5 linked regions of the Homo sapiens genome follow. The protein of the gene in region 1 interacts with the protein of each later gene in a biochemical or structural test. Each region holds a gene or a part of one and is shown in the gene's direction. Other genes may lie near its edges.

Evidence for each region.
Region 2: the proteins of SDC2 (region 1) and FGFR4 form a complex in vitro, tested with the Homo sapiens proteins (one large-scale study listed by IntAct).
Region 3: the proteins of SDC2 (region 1) and CSF2 form a complex in vitro, tested with the Homo sapiens proteins (one study listed by BioGRID).
Region 4: of the proteins of SDC2 (region 1) and PRKCB, one has a biochemical effect on the other in vitro, tested with the Homo sapiens proteins (one study listed by BioGRID).
Region 5: the proteins of SDC2 (region 1) and FN1 form a complex in vitro, tested with the Homo sapiens proteins (one study listed by BioGRID).

Annotation. Positions count from the first base shown.
Region 1 is NC_000008.11:96,500,297-96,503,812, forward strand, and holds part of SDC2 (syndecan-2 precursor), read left to right. Parts: intron 1-3,516. UniProt on the Homo sapiens protein: Cell surface proteoglycan which regulates dendritic arbor morphogenesis.
Region 2 is NC_000005.10:177,093,407-177,096,922, forward strand, and holds part of FGFR4 (fibroblast growth factor receptor 4 isoform 1 precursor), read left to right. Parts: coding exon 1-145; intron 146-247; coding exon 248-369; intron 370-1,923; coding exon 1,924-2,034; intron 2,035-2,126; coding exon 2,127-2,317; intron 2,318-2,650; coding exon 2,651-2,773; intron 2,774-2,880; coding exon 2,881-2,951; intron 2,952-3,197; coding exon 3,198-3,335; intron 3,336-3,516. UniProt on the Homo sapiens protein: Tyrosine-protein kinase that acts as a cell-surface receptor for fibroblast growth factors and plays a role in the regulation of cell proliferation, differentiation and migration, and in regulation of lipid metabolism, bile acid biosynthesis, glucose uptake, vitamin D metabolism and phosphate homeostasis.
Region 3 is NC_000005.10:132,072,322-132,076,593, forward strand, and holds CSF2 (granulocyte-macrophage colony-stimulating factor precursor), read left to right. Parts: upstream 1-1,467; 5' UTR 1,468-1,502; coding exon 1,503-1,661; intron 1,662-1,759; coding exon 1,760-1,801; intron 1,802-2,488; coding exon 2,489-2,614; intron 2,615-3,423; coding exon 3,424-3,531; 3' UTR 3,532-3,849; downstream 3,850-4,272. UniProt on the Homo sapiens protein: Cytokine that stimulates the growth and differentiation of hematopoietic precursor cells from various lineages, including granulocytes, macrophages, eosinophils and erythrocytes.
Region 4 is NC_000016.10:24,094,469-24,097,984, forward strand, and holds part of PRKCB (protein kinase C beta type), read left to right. Parts: intron 1-3,516. UniProt on the Homo sapiens protein: Calcium-activated, phospholipid- and diacylglycerol (DAG)-dependent serine/threonine-protein kinase involved in various cellular processes such as regulation of the B-cell receptor (BCR) signalosome, oxidative stress-induced apoptosis, androgen receptor-dependent transcription regulation, insulin signaling and endothelial cells proliferation.
Region 5 is NC_000002.12:215,426,057-215,429,572, reverse strand, and holds part of FN1 (fibronectin isoform 1 precursor), read left to right. Parts: intron 1-1,234; coding exon 1,235-1,393; intron 1,394-3,516. UniProt on the Homo sapiens protein: Fibronectins bind cell surfaces and various compounds including collagen, fibrin, heparin, DNA, and actin. Fibronectins are involved in cell adhesion, cell motility, opsonization, wound healing, and maintenance of cell shape.

The DNA of each region.
Region 1 (3,516 bases):
ATGAGGTGGCAGGGGTAGTGAGTATATTTTGGGGATCTGGGGGCAGAAAAGGGATTATTTTTATTTTTTAAGTGTGGAAATGTGGCCTGGCGCGATATCTCATGCCTGTAATCCCAGCACTTTGGGAGGCCGAGGTGGGCCAATCACCTGAGGTCAGGAATTCGAGACCAGCCTGGCCAACATGGTGAAACCCCGTCTCTACTAAAAATATAAAAATTAGCCGGGCGTGGTGATGGGCACCTATAATCCCAGCTACTTGGGAGGCTGAGGCAGGAGAATTGCTTGAACACAGGAGACGGAGGTTGCAATGAGCCGAGATCATGCCATGGCACTGCAGCCTGGGCGACAGAGTGAGACTCCATCTCAAAAAAAAAAAAAAAAAAAAGAGTGGAAATGCATTAAATTTCTTCTTTTAGCCATTGGGCTTTAGGTCTTACTATTAAAAATCTCAACTGCATTTTGATAAGTCTGTTTCTAGGCAGCATTAGCTTTAGCAACAAGGATGGAGGGGTGAATGCCTCTGAATGGGAGAGGACACTGTTGAAATAGAATTGTGAATGTCTGTTTTTCTCAAGTATCTCAAAGAATTGGTAGGAGTGGGAGAAGAGAGAAGCCTTGAAATCTTTGGAGATTTTCCATTTGCATTTCACATCAGCAGAGTGAAGCCAATGAGTATGCAGCTGGTGGCGTGATAGCCAATGCATAGTCTTGGAAAAATGGAAAAATGTTATTAAAGACATGTTTTCACAGTTTTTTTCTCTACTATTCAGTCTATTTTGTGAAAAATGTCACAAAGACTCAGTAAGTATGCTCTCTACAAAGCATTTTGGTGTTTTTTTTTATGATTACACAGGTATATTAAATACAAGTAACCGTGATGTTTAAGGAGTGTGTGCAATTAATAGAATTTAGTCTCATGGTATAAGAATGACACACGGGACAAGATACGCAATTATTAAAGGAAAATTTTTTTTAAGGGAAAAGTTAAATACGTATTTCTTTTTTTTTTTTTTTTTTTTTTTTTTTTTGAGACAGAGTCTCACTCCGTCGCCCAGGCTGGAGTGCAGTGGCATAAATGAGGCTCACTGCAACCTCCTCCCCCCGTTCAAGTGAATCTCCTGCCTCAACCTCCCGAGTAGCTGGGATTACAGTGCACACCACCACGCCTGGCTATTCTTTTTTTGTATTTTTAGTAGAGACGGGATTTCACCATGTTGGCCAGGCTGGTCTTGAACTCTTGACCTCAACTGATCCGCCTGCCTCAGCCTCCCAAAGTGCTGGGATTGCAGACGTGAGCCACTGCAACCAGCTGAGTTAAGTATGTATTTATGTGTAATTTGTTATTAAATATAAATACAGTAGACTAAATATACAACATTTTAAGTCAAGGCAAAAGCAAGGTTTTATACACATGTAATTAACTGTCTTAATCCCTGTGAGACCTCAGTTTTCTCATCTCTAAAATGATGGAGTTGAACGAGAAAAACTCTCTCTCCTTAATATTTACTTTTTCTGCACTTTAGGGTGTGGTAGGAGAAATGTGAAGATTAACTTAATAAGTAATTATTAATCCCCTGTCAAATACTTCTAATTTTATTATTGAAACATGGAATTTATTCACCTTACAGAAAGGCAAGTAATTTCTAATAGCTCATGGTAACCTGTTACCTTGAACTGAGTGTTCATTGTTTACTAGGAGTGGTATACATTGTCCTGCGTATTCGTGATCTAATGTCTATTTGTATTAGTCTGTTCTCACTCTGCTAATAAAGACATACCCAAGACTAGGTAATTTATAAAGGAAAGATGTTTGATGGACTCACAGTTCCACATGGCTGGGGAGACCTCACAATCATGGTGGAAGGCAAAGGAGAAGCAAAGGCACGTCCTACATGGTGGCAGGCAAGAGAGCTTGTACAGGGGAACTCCCATTTATGAAACCACCAGATCTTGTGAGACTTACTACCACAAGAAAAGTATAGGGGAAACCGCCCCCATGTTTCAGTTATCTCCACCTGGCCCCGCCCTTGAAATATGGGGATTATTACAGTTCAAGGTGAGATTTGGGTGAACACACAGCCAAACCATATCACTAGTATTTTTTTATATATTTTCTGATACAAGCCAGTGTAACATAAAGAACAGCTGCGTGGTAAAAATAACTTTCATTCTAGATAGAAGACTACATGACTTGATATACTGGGGGTCTTTTTAAACTATAAATCTCATAAAGTGTTTTAGTCTCCTCATATGGTTTCTGGCCTGGATCTCCATTTCCAGAGTGGGGCTTTTAACTGGTGCCTTCCGTTTGGTCCCTCTCTAGAGCACTTGAGCCTGGTCTGAGTACTGTGCAGACCACAAGCAAGAATCTAAATGAGCAGACTATGGTAGTGTTGCCTGGGTTTGGATACACTTATTATGTAACCTTGGGCAAGTTTTTTAACCTTCTGGGCTCAGTTTTCTCATCTGTAAAACTGAATATCCTAAAATAAGTTTTTAGGATTATGTGAGACACAATAAGTAGGGACTTTTTAGCATAAGGGAATGTCCATGCGTTGTGTCACATGCTAGTTATAATTCCTGGCTTTCTGCTTCTCTGAAGAATAAGGGCTTGGCACACACATTAGTTGGGCTCATCTGATAAGCTCTAGCCCAGAGGGTGGCTCAGCATATGCATGCTAAGGCCTACTTTTTCATAACAGGGGCTTTCTTCTTGTCTTGGGGTAGACTAGTTCTACGCTGAGATATTGGGAATATGTTTGTAGTCAGCTTTTCTCTAAAAGTGGATGATGTGAGAAAATATGCCATTTATTATTTCTGGCTGATGAAAGGTTCCTTACAGGGACAGGACAAATCCGTGTTAAGATGTGAAAAGCTCATCTTTCCCAGTAATTTTACCTCCACAAATCTGTCCAAAGGAAATCATTACCAGGTAAATAGTATTTAATGTCTTTGTTGAAGTCTCTTACTTATAATAGTTAAAAAAATGGAAACAACCCAAGTGTACAATAATAGAGTAATTGTTAAATAAGATTCTAATTTAGACACTGAATATCATGTGGCCATTAAAGATTTATTTGAAGGGTATTTATAACTTAGAAACTATAGTACACAAAAAGTTAGATATAAACCTATGTATAGTGAGACCTTGGTTATATTTTAAAAGGTGTGTGTGTGTATAAAGATAATGTATATATACAAATCCATACATGTCATAGAACTGTGTAGATACACATACACAAACATACACAGCATGAATACAGGTAAAACTAGGAAAATCAGAATAAGATTGGTAGATTGTATCAATATCAATATCATTGTTGTGATGTTTACTGTAGTTTTATAAATGTTACCATTGGCGGAAACTAGGAAGGGGCACAAGAGATCTTTGTATTATTTCTTACACTGTGTGTGAGTCTATAGTTATCTCAACAAAAATTTCAATCAAAAAATGGCACCAGAGCTAGATTGTTGTTTAAGTAAGTTCTGCTGATCCTTCAGAGAAAGATATGTTAT
Region 2 (3,516 bases), on another chromosome or scaffold:
TCTCCCTGGAGTCAGGCTCTTCCGGCAAGTCAAGCTCATCCCTGGTACGAGGCGTGCGTCTCTCCTCCAGCGGCCCCGCCTTGCTCGCCGGCCTCGTGAGTCTAGATCTACCTCTCGACCCACTATGGGAGTTCCCCCGGGACAGGTGCGCTGAGCTGTGTGGGGGCAGGGACGCGGGCGCCGGGTTGCAGCCCGCCCTCCGCAGGAGTGACTCGGAGGTCTGAGGCTGGACTTTCTCCATCTCCAGGCTGGTGCTTGGGAAGCCCCTAGGCGAGGGCTGCTTTGGCCAGGTAGTACGTGCAGAGGCCTTTGGCATGGACCCTGCCCGGCCTGACCAAGCCAGCACTGTGGCCGTCAAGATGCTCAAAGGTGAGTGTGGCCCGGTGTGGTGGCTCACACCTGTAACGCCAGCACTTTAGGAGGCTGAGGGTGGGAGGATCGCTTGAATCCAGGAATTCGAGGCCAGCCTGGGCAACATGGCAAGACTTCATCTCTACAAAAAAAAAATAAGAAAATTAGTTGGGTGTGGTGGTGTGTGCCTTTAGTCTCAGTTACTAGGGAGGCTGAGGCAGGAGGATCCCTTGAATCCAGGAGTTGGAGGTTGCAGGGAGCCATGATCACGCCACTGTATTCCAGCCTGGGCAACACAGTGAGACCCTATCTGAAAAAATAAATAAATAAATAAAAATAAAAGGTGAACGTGGCAGCCTGGAGGAGGTGCTATGGCATTGGGACTAATAGAAGGGGCTCACGGTGCCACCAGGTGAGCCCTGGAGCTGGGAGAGGCTGTGGGATCCCACCCTTAAACCTGCAATTCACCTCTGCTCCTGACCCTGGCAAGTGACTTCTGAGCCTCAGTTTTCCCTTGTGTCATATGGGGTAGATAACAGTCCCTACTCCCAGCCCAAGGATTGTGGAAAGTGCCTGGCTCATAGTCAGGGCTCAATAAATCTTCACCACTGGGGTGATGATGATGAGAAGAATTTGGTGTGACAGGCTTGATATCCTGTGTCAGCATTAGTCTGTGTCAGCTTTGACTTCACATCTCCTTGTCAGCCTCACAGGCCCTCTACCTCCTTCCTTATGGTTCCCCCCAGACACACCCTCAGCCTCCCTTGGACCCTCCCTAGGTCTGCCCCCCACGTCCACTGCTGTAGGAGGACAGCCCTTCTGCTTGCACCCAGGCCCAGCCCCGGGGTGCTCTTGCTGGGCACTCCTGCACCCCACCCATCAGGGCCTCTCCTTGCAGTTCCCCAGCCCCCTCTGCAAGAATGGCCTCCACTGCTCTTCTGCTCCTCCCCTCCTCTCTACACAGCTGGGGCCACCTGGTGCTCCCTGGGAGGCAGGGATTGAGAAATGCACATTGTGTCATTGGCCCAGGGCCACAGGTCAGCCCCAGGGGCTCAGCCAGAGAAGCCAAAGCAGCCTTCTTCCCAAGCTCCCCGGCTGCACCCGGCCTGCCGCCAGCTCCCTGAATTCCCAGGCCAGTTGGAAGCCAGGCCCTGGTCAAACAGACCCCAGGGCGCCAGCCTGCTTTCCGCACCCAGAAGCTCTGACCCCATGCGGGGACTACCGCTGACCCCTCCAGCGGCAGCTTCCTTCCTTCCTTCCTGCTCCGAGCTCTTCCCCTCTCTCCTGTGTCCTGGGCCTGCCCGCTGGAAGGCCTGCCTCTTAGATCCTTGATACAGTTGCATCCTTGCAACTGCTGTGACAGGCAGGGTGTGACCCACTGCTCTGTTTCCCACAAGACGAACCTGAGGTTCAGAGACGCTAGGAGACTTTTTCAAGGCCACACAGCCTAGCAAGGATTCAGCCCTAGACCTACGTAGCCCTGGTCCAGTGCTGCTTGTCCTGCACCTGCCTCTGCATGCTCCCTCGTGCAGTTGGAGGGCAGCCTCTTCACCCCGTCTGCTGCCCTTACAGACAACGCCTCTGACAAGGACCTGGCCGACCTGGTCTCGGAGATGGAGGTGATGAAGCTGATCGGCCGACACAAGAACATCATCAACCTGCTTGGTGTCTGCACCCAGGAAGGTGGGGCCGAGGCGGGGCTGGCTGCACGGGCCGTTAGGGTGCAGAGCCAAAGCTTTGGCAGCCTCTCCACGCTCCCTCCACTCCCTCTGCAGGGCCCCTGTACGTGATCGTGGAGTGCGCCGCCAAGGGAAACCTGCGGGAGTTCCTGCGGGCCCGGCGCCCCCCAGGCCCCGACCTCAGCCCCGACGGTCCTCGGAGCAGTGAGGGGCCGCTCTCCTTCCCAGTCCTGGTCTCCTGCGCCTACCAGGTGGCCCGAGGCATGCAGTATCTGGAGTCCCGGAAGGTACAGGCGCTAGGGCTCTGAGCCCCTCTCAGTCTCTCCAGCTCCACTCTCAGGCCTGTGGCATTCAATGTCCCGACTTCTCCCTCTCTGCTCTTTTTCATGACCCCACCTCAGTGTCCCCAGGCATTCACGCTTTCCTGCATTCCCCACTCGTTCCTCACCCTTCCCCAGAGGGGAGAGGGGACGCAGGAGAAGGCACTCCCCGTTTCTAAACCTTGACCTCCTCCTCTGTAAAGTGGGTGGAGGGCCCCTGCCCCCGGGCCTGCTGGGGGGTGGTGTGTGCTCAACTCCAGGCCAGGTGTCCTGAGGCACCCAAGCCCCCGCTCCCTGCAGTGTATCCACCGGGACCTGGCTGCCCGCAATGTGCTGGTGACTGAGGACAATGTGATGAAGATTGCTGACTTTGGGCTGGCCCGCGGCGTCCACCACATTGACTACTATAAGAAAACCAGCAACGTGAGGGAGATGGGGCAGAACTGGATGGGGGTGGAGGGGCACTGGGCCCGGGGTGGCAGGCACGAGGACCTGTGGGACTCTGCACTGAGGCCCTCTCTCCCCTCCAGGGCCGCCTGCCTGTGAAGTGGATGGCGCCCGAGGCCTTGTTTGACCGGGTGTACACACACCAGAGTGACGTGTGAGTCCTGCCGGCGGTCACTGTCCTACCCCACAAAAAGGGCAAGGCACTGCCCAAAGTCACGTGGCCCCAGGAGTCATGCGCTCGAGGGCTCCTTCAGATTTGGTCTGGGACCCGAGTGGGCCCAGACTCCAGGAGGAGCCCATTCCCCAACAGCTGTGGTGGGTCATGTCTGTGGGGTCCCCCGTCCTAGCCCCGGTCGTCGGGAGGGCGCTGAGCCACACTGAGCCCTGGCCCTACCTCCAGGTGGTCTTTTGGGATCCTGCTATGGGAGATCTTCACCCTCGGGGGCTCCCCGTATCCTGGCATCCCGGTGGAGGAGCTGTTCTCGCTGCTGCGGGAGGGACATCGGATGGACCGACCCCCACACTGCCCCCCAGAGCTGTGAGGCCTCACCCTGCCCTCGACCCCACTTTCCAGTCCTCCTCCTCCTCTGCCCTGACCATGGCCTCAGGGTGTGTCCCGGCCAGAAGGACAACACTAACAACAACTCCTCGTCCTCCTCCTCCTCTTCCTCTTCCTCCTCCTCCTCTTCCTCCTCCTCCTCTTCCTCCTCCTCTTCCTC
Region 3 (4,272 bases), on another chromosome or scaffold:
CTCTATGCAAGGTCAGAAAAACTCCCACAGTACAGGGAAACTGGCCAGGGCTGCAGACTCAGACCACAGTGCTAAAGCCATGAACTCCACCTGCTCTCTGAAGGCTCGCCAACCTGAGTCCAGCAGAATGTTCTCGCTTGTGTCCAACCCCACTGGTTTAGGCTGAATCAGCCTCTAGGGCCCAGAGGCACTGCACCTGGAGTAGGGAGCTTCTCCAGTATCAGAGTCACCTTCAGAGGCCTGGAGCCTTTCATAAAGCAGGTAAGAGGACTCAATAGATGCATCTGCATGGAAAACATCCTCCCCTCTACCAGGCACCTGTATGTACAACCAATCACAGCAGCACACATACACCCAGAAATGGGCACGTGTGGGCCCACACCCCTTTAGCTATGAAACCCAGGCATGGGGCAGCTTGAGCCAGATACCTTGTGCAAACACAAACTCGTGCTGTCTTCTCTGAACTCCATTGTGAAAATCAAACACTTGTCAGCCCCTCAAGAGCCTTTAGATTTCCTACTTCCACACTTCCACAGAAAGGCCTCTGGAGTTGGGGGATGCTGGGGTTATGTAGGAAATTAAGCCTGGAGGGCCTTGCTGGGGAAGCCATTGTCCCTGTACCTGAGATGGATGCAGCCACAGCCCTGGAGCCAGCCTGAAGCTCCTGGTGTCTTCTGGGGGCTACATATAGGAGTGTAGTCCGAACCTCAGAGGGGCAAACCTGCTCTGCAGAGGGAATCAAGGTTCACATAACCAGAGAGGGGAGTCACTCAGGAAGGTGGCTCCAGAGCCAAGAGTCAGACTCTGGGTCCCGACTTGACCCAGCCACACCCCCTCTGAAGCTTGCTGAGAGTGGCTGCAGTCTCGCTGCTGGATGTGCACATGGTGGTCATTCCCTCTGCTCACAGGGGCAGGGGTCCCCCCTTACTGGACTGAGGTTGCCCCCTGCTCCAGGTCCTGGGTGGGAGCCCATGTGAACTGTCAGTGGGGCAGGTCTGTGAGAGCTCCCCTCACACTCAAGTCTCTCACAGTGGCCAGAGAAGAGGAAGGCTGGAGTCAGAATGAGGCACCAGGGCGGGCATAGCCTGCCCAAAGGCCCCTGGGATTACAGGCAGGATGGGGAGCCCTATCTAAGTGTCTCCCACGCCCCACCCCAGCCATTCCAGGCCAGGAAGTCCAAACTGTGCCCCTCAGAGGGAGGGGGCAGCCTCAGGCCCATTCAGACTGCCCAGGGAGGGCTGGAGAGCCCTCAGGAAGGCGGGTGGGTGGGCTGTCGGTTCTTGGAAAGGTTCATTAATGAAAACCCCCAAGCCTGACCACCTAGGGAAAAGGCTCACCGTTCCCATGTGTGGCTGATAAGGGCCAGGAGATTCCACAGTTCAGGTAGTTCCCCCGCCTCCCTGGCATTTTGTGGTCACCATTAATCATTTCCTCTGTGTATTTAAGAGCTCTTTTGCCAGTGAGCCCAGTACACAGAGAGAAAGGCTAAAGTTCTCTGGAGGATGTGGCTGCAGAGCCTGCTGCTCTTGGGCACTGTGGCCTGCAGCATCTCTGCACCCGCCCGCTCGCCCAGCCCCAGCACGCAGCCCTGGGAGCATGTGAATGCCATCCAGGAGGCCCGGCGTCTCCTGAACCTGAGTAGAGACACTGCTGCTGAGATGGTAAGTGAGAGAATGTGGGCCTGTGCCTAGGCCACCCAGCTGGCCCCTGACTGGCCACGCCTGTCAGCTTGATAACATGACATTTTCCTTTTCTACAGAATGAAACAGTAGAAGTCATCTCAGAAATGTTTGACCTCCAGGTAAGATGCTTCTCTCTGACATAGCTTTCCAGAAGCCCCTGCCCTGGGGTGGAGGTGGGGACTCCATTTTAGATGGCACCACACAGGGTTGTCCACTTTCTCTCCAGTCAGCTGGCTGCAGGAGGAGGGGGTAGCAACTGGGTGCTCAAGAGGCTGCTGGCCGTGCCCCTATGGCAGTCACATGAGCTCCTTTATCAGCTGAGCGGCCATGGGCAGACCTAGCATTCAATGGCCAGGAGTCACCAGGGGACAGGTGGTAAAGTGGGGGTCACTTCATGAGACAGGAGCTGTGGGTTTGGGGCGCTCACTGTGCCCCGAGACCAAGTCCTGTTGAGACAGTGCTGACTACAGAGAGGCACAGAGGGGTTTCAGGAACAACCCTTGCCCACCCAGCAGGTCCAGGTGAGGCCCCACCCCCCTCTCCCTGAATGATGGGGTGAGAGTCACCTCCTTCCCTAAGGCTGGGCTCCTCTCCAGGTGCCGCTGAGGGTGGCCTGGGCGGGGCAGTGAGAAGGGCAGGTTCGTGCCTGCCATGGACAGGGCAGGGTCTATGACTGGACCCAGCCTGTGCCCCTCCCAAGCCCTACTCCTGGGGGCTGGGGGCAGCAGCAAAAAGGAGTGGTGGAGAGTTCTTGTACCACTGTGGGCACTTGGCCACTGCTCACCGACGAACGACATTTTCCACAGGAGCCGACCTGCCTACAGACCCGCCTGGAGCTGTACAAGCAGGGCCTGCGGGGCAGCCTCACCAAGCTCAAGGGCCCCTTGACCATGATGGCCAGCCACTACAAGCAGCACTGCCCTCCAACCCCGGTGAGTGCCTACGGCAGGGCCTCCAGCAGGAATGTCTTAATCTAGGGGGTGGGGTCGACATGGGGAGAGATCTATGGCTGTGGCTGTTCAGGACCCCAGGGGGTTTCTGTGCCAACAGTTATGTAATGATTAGCCCTCCAGAGAGGAGGCAGACAGCCCATTTCATCCCAAGGAGTCAGAGCCACAGAGCGCTGAAGCCCACAGTGCTCCCCAGCAGGAGCTGCTCCTATCCTGGTCATTATTGTCATTATGGTTAATGAGGTCAGAGGTGAGGGCAAACCCAAGGAAACTTGGGGCCTGCCCAAGGCCCAGAGGAAGTGCCCAGGCCCAAGTGCCACCTTCTGGCAGGACTTTCCTCTGGCCCCACATGGGGTGCTTGAATTGCAGAGGATCAAGGAAGGGAGGCTACTTGGAATGGACAAGGACCTCAGGCACTCCTTCCTGCGGGAAGGGAGCAAAGTTTGTGGCCTTGACTCCACTCCTTCTGGGTGCCCAGAGACGACCTCAGCCCAGCTGCCCTGCTCTGCCCTGGGACCAAAAAGGCAGGCGTTTGACTGCCCAGAAGGCCAACCTCAGGCTGGCACTTAAGTCAGGCCCTTGACTCTGGCTGCCACTGGCAGAGCTATGCACTCCTTGGGGAACACGTGGGTGGCAGCAGCGTCACCTGACCCAGGTCAGTGGGTGTGTCCTGGAGTGGGCCTCCTGGCCTCTGAGTTCTAAGAGGCAGTAGAGAAACATGCTGGTGCTTCCTTCCCCCACGTTACCCACTTGCCTGGACTCAAGTGTTTTTTATTTTTCTTTTTTTAAAGGAAACTTCCTGTGCAACCCAGATTATCACCTTTGAAAGTTTCAAAGAGAACCTGAAGGACTTTCTGCTTGTCATCCCCTTTGACTGCTGGGAGCCAGTCCAGGAGTGAGACCGGCCAGATGAGGCTGGCCAAGCCGGGGAGCTGCTCTCTCATGAAACAAGAGCTAGAAACTCAGGATGGTCATCTTGGAGGGACCAAGGGGTGGGCCACAGCCATGGTGGGAGTGGCCTGGACCTGCCCTGGGCCACACTGACCCTGATACAGGCATGGCAGAAGAATGGGAATATTTTATACTGACAGAAATCAGTAATATTTATATATTTATATTTTTAAAATATTTATTTATTTATTTATTTAAGTTCATATTCCATATTTATTCAAGATGTTTTACCGTAATAATTATTATTAAAAATATGCTTCTACTTGTCCAGTGTTCTAGTTTGTTTTTAACCATGAGCAAATGCCAGTGGTGCCTGCCTTCCCATGAGGCAGGGGAGGGAGGAAACGGGGAGGTGGAGAGGGGGCGGGGGCCTCCCAGGCGTTGGGCACTATCCAAGGGCCAACACTGTCAGAGCAGAGGGGAGGTGAGAGCCGGGCATAGGTGCGGAATTCTGCACACCTGGACGGGCTTCCCGGGATGCTCCAGGGCTCCCACCCCAGAGAATGGCTCTCAAGTTCACCTGGAAGTCCAAGTGACCAGCCCAGGGAACTCTTATCCCAGAGAAGGGCACCACCCTTCCTGGGGAGGCCTGGGGGTTGGCTGGTCACTGGCTGAACAGGCCCACTCTGGCATCAGGCAAAACACCTGCCCTGTAGAGGCCTTGGCCCCTGTGCCCCACGCCCTGCCCC
Region 4 (3,516 bases), on another chromosome or scaffold:
AACAAAAAAGAAAGAGGCCAGGCCTCGTGTCTGACACCTGTCATCCCAGCACTCTGGGAGGCCGAGGCAGGTAGATCACTTGAGCTCAGGAGTTTAAGACCAGTCTGGGCAACATGGTGAAACCCCATCTCTATCAAAAACATGAAAAATTAGCTGGGCATGGTGGTGTGTGCCTGTAGTTCCAGCTACTCAGGAGGCTGAGATGGGAGGATCACTTGAACCCTGGAGGCAGAGGTTGCAGTGAGCAAGGTGGTCAGAGATTGAGCCACTGCACTCCAGCCTGGGTGACAGAGTGATAAAAAAGAAAGAGAGAGAGAGAGAAGGAATGAAGGAAGGGAGGGAGGAAGGAAGGAAGGAAGGAAGGAAGGAAGGAAGGAAGGAAGGAAAGGAAGAAAAAGGGAAAGGGAAAGGAAGAAGAAAGAAAGAAGAAAGAAAGACGGAAAGCAGGAAGGAAGGAAGGGAGGAAGGGAAGGAGGGACAGAAGGAGGGAGGGAGGGAATTAGTTCTAGTATTTTAAAAATCTGGGGCTAGAAGGCAACAATTGAGAACAGTTGAATAGTTAATGCCCCCTTTAGACAGGACATGGATTTTCTATTTGTCACCGTCCTCACCACTCCCTATTTTATTACATCTGGGCCAATTTACTAAACTACATGATGAGACTGTAACTGCCCAGTGGCTTCTTTGTGCCTGCTGCCCAGACAGAGCCGATTTATCAAGATGGGAGAATTGCAATAGGGAAAGAGTTTTACACACATAGAGCCAGCTAAATGGGAGAACAGAGTTTTTTTATGACTCAAATCAGCCTCCCTGAAAATTTGGAAGCTAGGGCTTTTCAAAGATAGTTTGGCAAGGAGTAGGGTGGCTAGGGAATGGGTGCTGCTGACTGGTTGGGGATGCAGTAATAGGGGTGTGAAAAATGGTCCTCGTGCACTGAGTCCACTTCTGGGTGGGGCCACAGGACTAGTTGGCAGGTCCAGGTGGGGCAGTCTGGTTGTCAGGAAGGCAAAAGCCTGAAAAGACATCTCAAAAGGCCAATCTCAAGTTCTACAGTAGTGATGTTATCTGTAGGAGTAACTTAGGAAGTTGGAAGTGTTGTGAGCTCTGGGATAAAGGCTGATAATAATCCATGTCTACATCTTAGCAGAATTCAGGCTCCTTTCATTCTCCTAACTTGGCAATATTTCATTAGTTTTACAAAGGCAGTTTAGTTTTGGGAAAGGGCTGTCATAATTTAAAATATACAACAAATTTCTTTCAAAGTTAGGTTGGCGGTCTGGTCGGGGTGGAGCCATTGGTTACGAGAAATGCAAAAAAACCTGAAGAGACATCTCAAAAGGCCAGTCTACAATAGTGATCTTATCTGCGGGGGTCATTGGGAAAGTTGCAAATCTTGTGACCTCTGGAATAATGGCTGGTAATCCTTTATGTCTACACCTTAGCAGAATTCAGGCTCCTCTCATCCTCCTAACCTCATGGTCCCTCATTAGCTTTATGAAGGTAGTTTAGTTTTGGGCAAGGGCTATTATCATTTAAAATGTACACTAGGCCGGGCGCAGTGGCTCACCCCTGTATTCCCAGCACTTTGGGAGGCCGAGGTGGGTGGATCACGAGATCGGGAGATCGAGACCATCCTGGCCAACATGGTGAAACCCTGTCTGTACTAAAAATACAAAAATTAGTTGGGTGTGCTGGCATGTGAGGATCACTTGAACCAGGGAGGCGGAGGTTGCAGTGAGCCGAGATCATGCCACTGCACTCCAGCCTGGGTGACAGAGCAAGACTCCATCTCAAAATAAAATGAAATAAAATAAAATAAACACTAAATTTGTCACAAAGTTAACTTGGCCCGAGCCCAGGAAAGCGTAAGGGCAGTTTGGAGGTTAAAGGCAAGCTGGGGGTTGGTTAGATCAAATCTCTTTCACTGACGTCATCATTTTCTCCCTGTTACAATTTCTGCAAAGACAGTTCCATGACTGGCTCCATGGACACTAGAGTGGCTTGTACACTTCACCTGAAAGATATGAGCAACCCACTGTCAGATGGTGTCTGAGAAGCTACCGCTTCCTTGGGAGTCCTTAGCAAGTCTGGCCACAGATCATAGATGTACTGGGGTGTTGTTTTCATAGTCAGCTGCTGTGTCTCCTTTGTCCTGAAGATTTTATTTTGCTCCCTTCCTATGGCAAAAAAAAAAAAAAATATATATATATATATATATATATATATATATATATATATCCTCCAATGTTACCAACAGAGAGGCTGGGTAAGCCCCCTTGGCAACTGTTTCACAGTTAACTGAGTCAAGGAGTCAGAAGAAATAGCTTAACCTGGCACTATAACTTTGGGAGAAGTGGCAATTGGGCTGCTATTACTTCTTTAAGATAAATTGTCTCATATCTGAATTGTCTCATTCAGGACCTTTTCAGCTTCAAGTGAAAGAAAATAAAAATCAAACTGGTTTAGCGAGAAAGAGATGTGTCCTTTGGACCACACACACATCTTTCCTTTCCATTGTTCACCTTATGACTTCCTTGTCTTGGCTCCATGTTTCATCTTAGGCCTTTTTTTTTTTTTTTTTTTTTTGAGACGGAGTCTTGCTCTGTCACCCAGGCTGGAGTGCAGTGGTGTGATCTCGGCTCACTGCAACCTCTGCCTCCTGGGTTCAAGCAATTCTCCTGCCTCAGCCTCCCGAGTAGCTGGGACTACAGGTGCCCGCCACCACGCCCAGCTAATTTTTTGTAATTTTAGTAGAGATGGGGTTTCACCATGTTAGCCAGGATGATCTCGATCTCCTGACCTTGTGATCTGCCTGCCTTGGCCTCCCAAAGTGCTGGGATTGCAGGTGTGAGCCTCCGTGCCCAGCCTATCTTAGGCTTTTCTTGAAACATATATTGAGTGTCCACTAGGTGCTGGTCACTAGAAACACATGGAGGTATAAGACAGACATGACTTCATGGAGCTTAGCTTATGGCAGAGGGTGGGTTGGGGAGATAAACATTGAACAAGGAATTACGCAAATGACAAATCAATGACAACATGATGGAAGATGTGAAGAAGACAGGAGCTGAGAGTTTTGAACCCAAAAGTATCTGAGACAGATTTCAATCAGTTTAGAAAGTTTATTTTGCCAAGGTTAAGGATGTGCCAGTGACACAGACTCAGGAGATCCTGATGACATGGGCCCAAGGTGGATGGGGTACAACTTGCTTTTATACATTTTAGGGAGACGTAAGACATCAATCAATACATGTGAGATTTACATTGGCTCAATCTGGAAAGGCAGGACAACTAAAAGTGGGACGGGGAGGTGCTTCCGGGTCATAGGTAGATTTTACAATTTTCTGATTGGCAATTGGTTGAATGAGCTGTTATCAATAGAAAGGAATGTCTGGGTTACATAAGGAGTTGTGGAGACCAAAGTTTTATCATGAAGATGAAGCCTCCAGGTAGCAGGCTTCAGAGAGACTAGATGGTAATTGTTTCTTATCAGACTTAAGGTCTGTGTTGATGTTA
Region 5 (3,516 bases), on another chromosome or scaffold:
CTAATCAGTAATTATACCTTCATGCAAACTTCTATTCTTGTGGTAGATGGATGTGGGTGTGTATTTGTTTGAACCTACATCAACTATTAATTTTTTTTCTCTAACCCAGGAGTTGCAACAATATCCAATTCACAAAGACATCAGATCCTCTATACTCACATCGTGGCACAGAGCAAATTTGGATTATAATTTAAATAATCTATTTACCAGATAAATGCACGCATAGACTAATGGTCATTTAGTTACAAATTATCATTTTATGTTGATCCCACTCTTCCAGTGGAGGGCTAACACTGAATAATTTGGGGCTATTTTGCTAGTGATTTTTAAATACTGTAGATGTTTGGGTATAGGGGAAGGGAAAATAATATTTTAGTCAAAGAAATTGTGCATCCTCTACATTTTTTACATAACAAATGAAGAAAGAGATACTACCACCTTCTTATAGCTTCTTTGTAGCCATTGGTGAAGACCCTTTGATACCTGCTTGCCTCCCCATTGTTATAAGCTTTTTTTTGTTTGCTTGTTTTTTTTGTTTTGTTTTGTTTTGTTTTGTTTTTGAGACAGTCTCACCCTGTCGCCCAGGCTGGAGTGCAATGGTGTGATCTCAGCTCATTGCAACCTCCACCTCCCGGGTTCAAGCGATTCTCTTGCCTCAGCTTCCCGAGTAGCTTGGATTACAGGCGCCCGCCACCACAGCCGGCTAATTTTTTTTGGTATTTTTAGTAGAGACGGGGGTTTCACCATGTTGCCCAGGCTGGTCTTGAACTCCTGACTGCAGGTGATCCACCCTCCTAAAGTACTAGGATTACAGGCGTGAGCCACCGCGCTTAGCCTGTTTTTAGTTTTCTAAAGCAAGGTCCCTATTGAAAGGCAGGCCATAAACAGTGATGACTAAGAAAAATCCTGGAAGAGCCTGAGAAGGAAAAAGATGAAATATAATGCCAGAGAATGAAGTTAGTCAAAGGAACAGTGTGAAAACAATAAATAAATAGATAAATGAAAATGTTATTTGACAGAGAGATGAAACTAGACTAAACCATTCAGCTGCCTTTCCACTGTAACAAATGTAATTTCATCTTTCAGAAGTGTAATACCTTGCAGCACCAGAGCTGAATATGAACATATTACCAAAAATAGATTACCAGGCATAGATAGCATTCCTTTTTTAAGTTTGAATTGACCACTTGCGACTCTCGACCTGATGTATGTATGTGCTTCCTTTGTGACACAGATAGATGCAACGATCAGGACACAAGGACATCCTATAGAATTGGAGACACCTGGAGCAAGAAGGATAATCGAGGAAACCTGCTCCAGTGCATCTGCACAGGCAACGGCCGAGGAGAGTGGAAGTGTGAGAGGCACACCTCTGTGCAGACCACATCGAGCGGTGAGGCACAGGACGAGCAGGGGCGGGAAATGGGGAAGCAGGTCAAGAAATATTTCCGCAAATCCATCTTTCCTTTGACATGCCATTTGAGGATAATTTGCAGTGTTTCAGCTAATAACCTAAGATAATTTACACATTATTGGTTGTTAAAACTTTTTTTAATGTCAAGTTTTAAATTTTTCAGAAAAAAAGAAAAATGACATACAAATAAACCTTAGGGGGAAAAAAGCCAGATTTATCTCCAAAAGATAAAACTGAGTTTTAAAGAATGCTAGCATCATAAAACTTACCATGGATAGATCACGCACACACGCACACACACACGTATTTTGAATATCCAAAGTTCATTTGAAAGGAAATGAGAGTTATAATTAATTATATGACTACCTGGTTCTTCTGCTAGGAAAGGACAAAAAAAGTGCATTTGGATTTTTTGTTTGTTTGTTTTTGAATGAAATATACTTCCCTGTCCCGACATTGAACTCTTTTTGTAGTGGAAACCATCCTTTATATGTGGTTTCTATGCTCTGGCAAACTTTGTTACATTCTATAAAGTAACACACAATTATTTCCTTCATGTATTGGCATTCGAAATTTTAGAAATTCAGAGAGGACTTAGAGATGGCCATGAAAGACATGATATCTAAGCATTCTTTTTAAAAAACAAGTTTTAATCATTTTTGGCATGAGAAAAAGATTTTTACGTCATAAATGTTTCATAAAAATCTGAAGAGAGAAATATGGCCAACAAGGACGTGCACTCCTCTCATTATTTTTAATATGTTTTGATTAACTTTTTACTATATGATGTGCCAACATCATTACGTAGTGTCTCAGCCATCCTTCAATTAAAAATATTAATTGTTCTAATTTTTCTTCTTTTGATGAGTTTTTGTCTTGCTTTGAGCACTTATGAAGGTGAACAAGATTAGATTTGATAATATCTTTGAGTTATTTTATTATCATTAATAAAATTGCTACTGGCCAAAAAAAATTATAAACATCGGCCACGCGCGGTGGCTCACGCCTGTAATCCCAGCACTTTGGGAGGCCGAGGCAGGCGGATCACGAGGTCAGGAGATCAAGACCATCCTGGCTAACACGGTGAAACCCCATCTCTACTAAAAATACAAAAAATTAACCAGGCGTTGTGGCGGGCGCCTGTAGTCCCAGCTACTCGGGAGGCTGAGGCAGGAGAATGGCATGAACCCGGGAGGTGGAGTTTGCAGTGACCCGAGATCGCACCACTGCACTCCAGCCTGGGTGATACAGCGAGACCCCATCTCAAAAAAATAAAATAAAATAAAAAATAAAAAAAATTATAAATGTCAGTCTACCAAAATAGATTAAAAGTGTAGGTGGGAATTAAATGGGGATAAACACTCAATAAATGTTAGCTATATATGAATATTGCCAATACTGAAAAGATTCCATTGTTCAAAAAAGTTTGAGAAGCAATGGGTTAAACAAAATGGAACCTGCTCTGCAGAATCTGTGTGTTCCTTTACATCATACTCTCCATGGTAGAGTGTAGGGGATGGGCGCCATGTCTCCCTAGTACGTTTGACCTTGGGATTCTTTGTCTGTGAACATCTTTGGGTTCTAGTGTTCAGCAGCACTTAGGGAGGCACTGAATTCAGTGTACCTTTGGTCTAGCCTCAGCCCTGATTCTGTTCTGCGGTGGGCCCTGGCCTTCAAGAGAACAGATATCTAAAAGTTGAAAGAAAAGATCGGCCGGGCGCGGTGGCTCACGCCTGTAATCCCAGCACTTTGGGAGGCCAAGGCGGGTGGATCACAAGGTCAGGAGATCGAGACCATCCTGGCTAACACGGTGAAACCCCGTCTCTACTAAAAATACAAAAAATTAGCCGGGCGTGGTGGCGGGTGCCTGTAGTCCCAGCTACTCGGGAGGCTGAGGCAGGAGAATGGCGTGAACCCGGGAGGCAGAGCTTGCAGTGAGCCGAGATTGCGCCACTGCACTCCAGCCTGGGTGACAGAGTGAGACTCCGTCTCAAAAAAAAAAAAAAAAAAAAAAAGAAAAAAGAAAAGATCAACACATCCTGTTGTGTTATTCTGAAAGGAAAGCTGTCTTAAGAGGATCAATTGGTTTTAGAAAAAACACA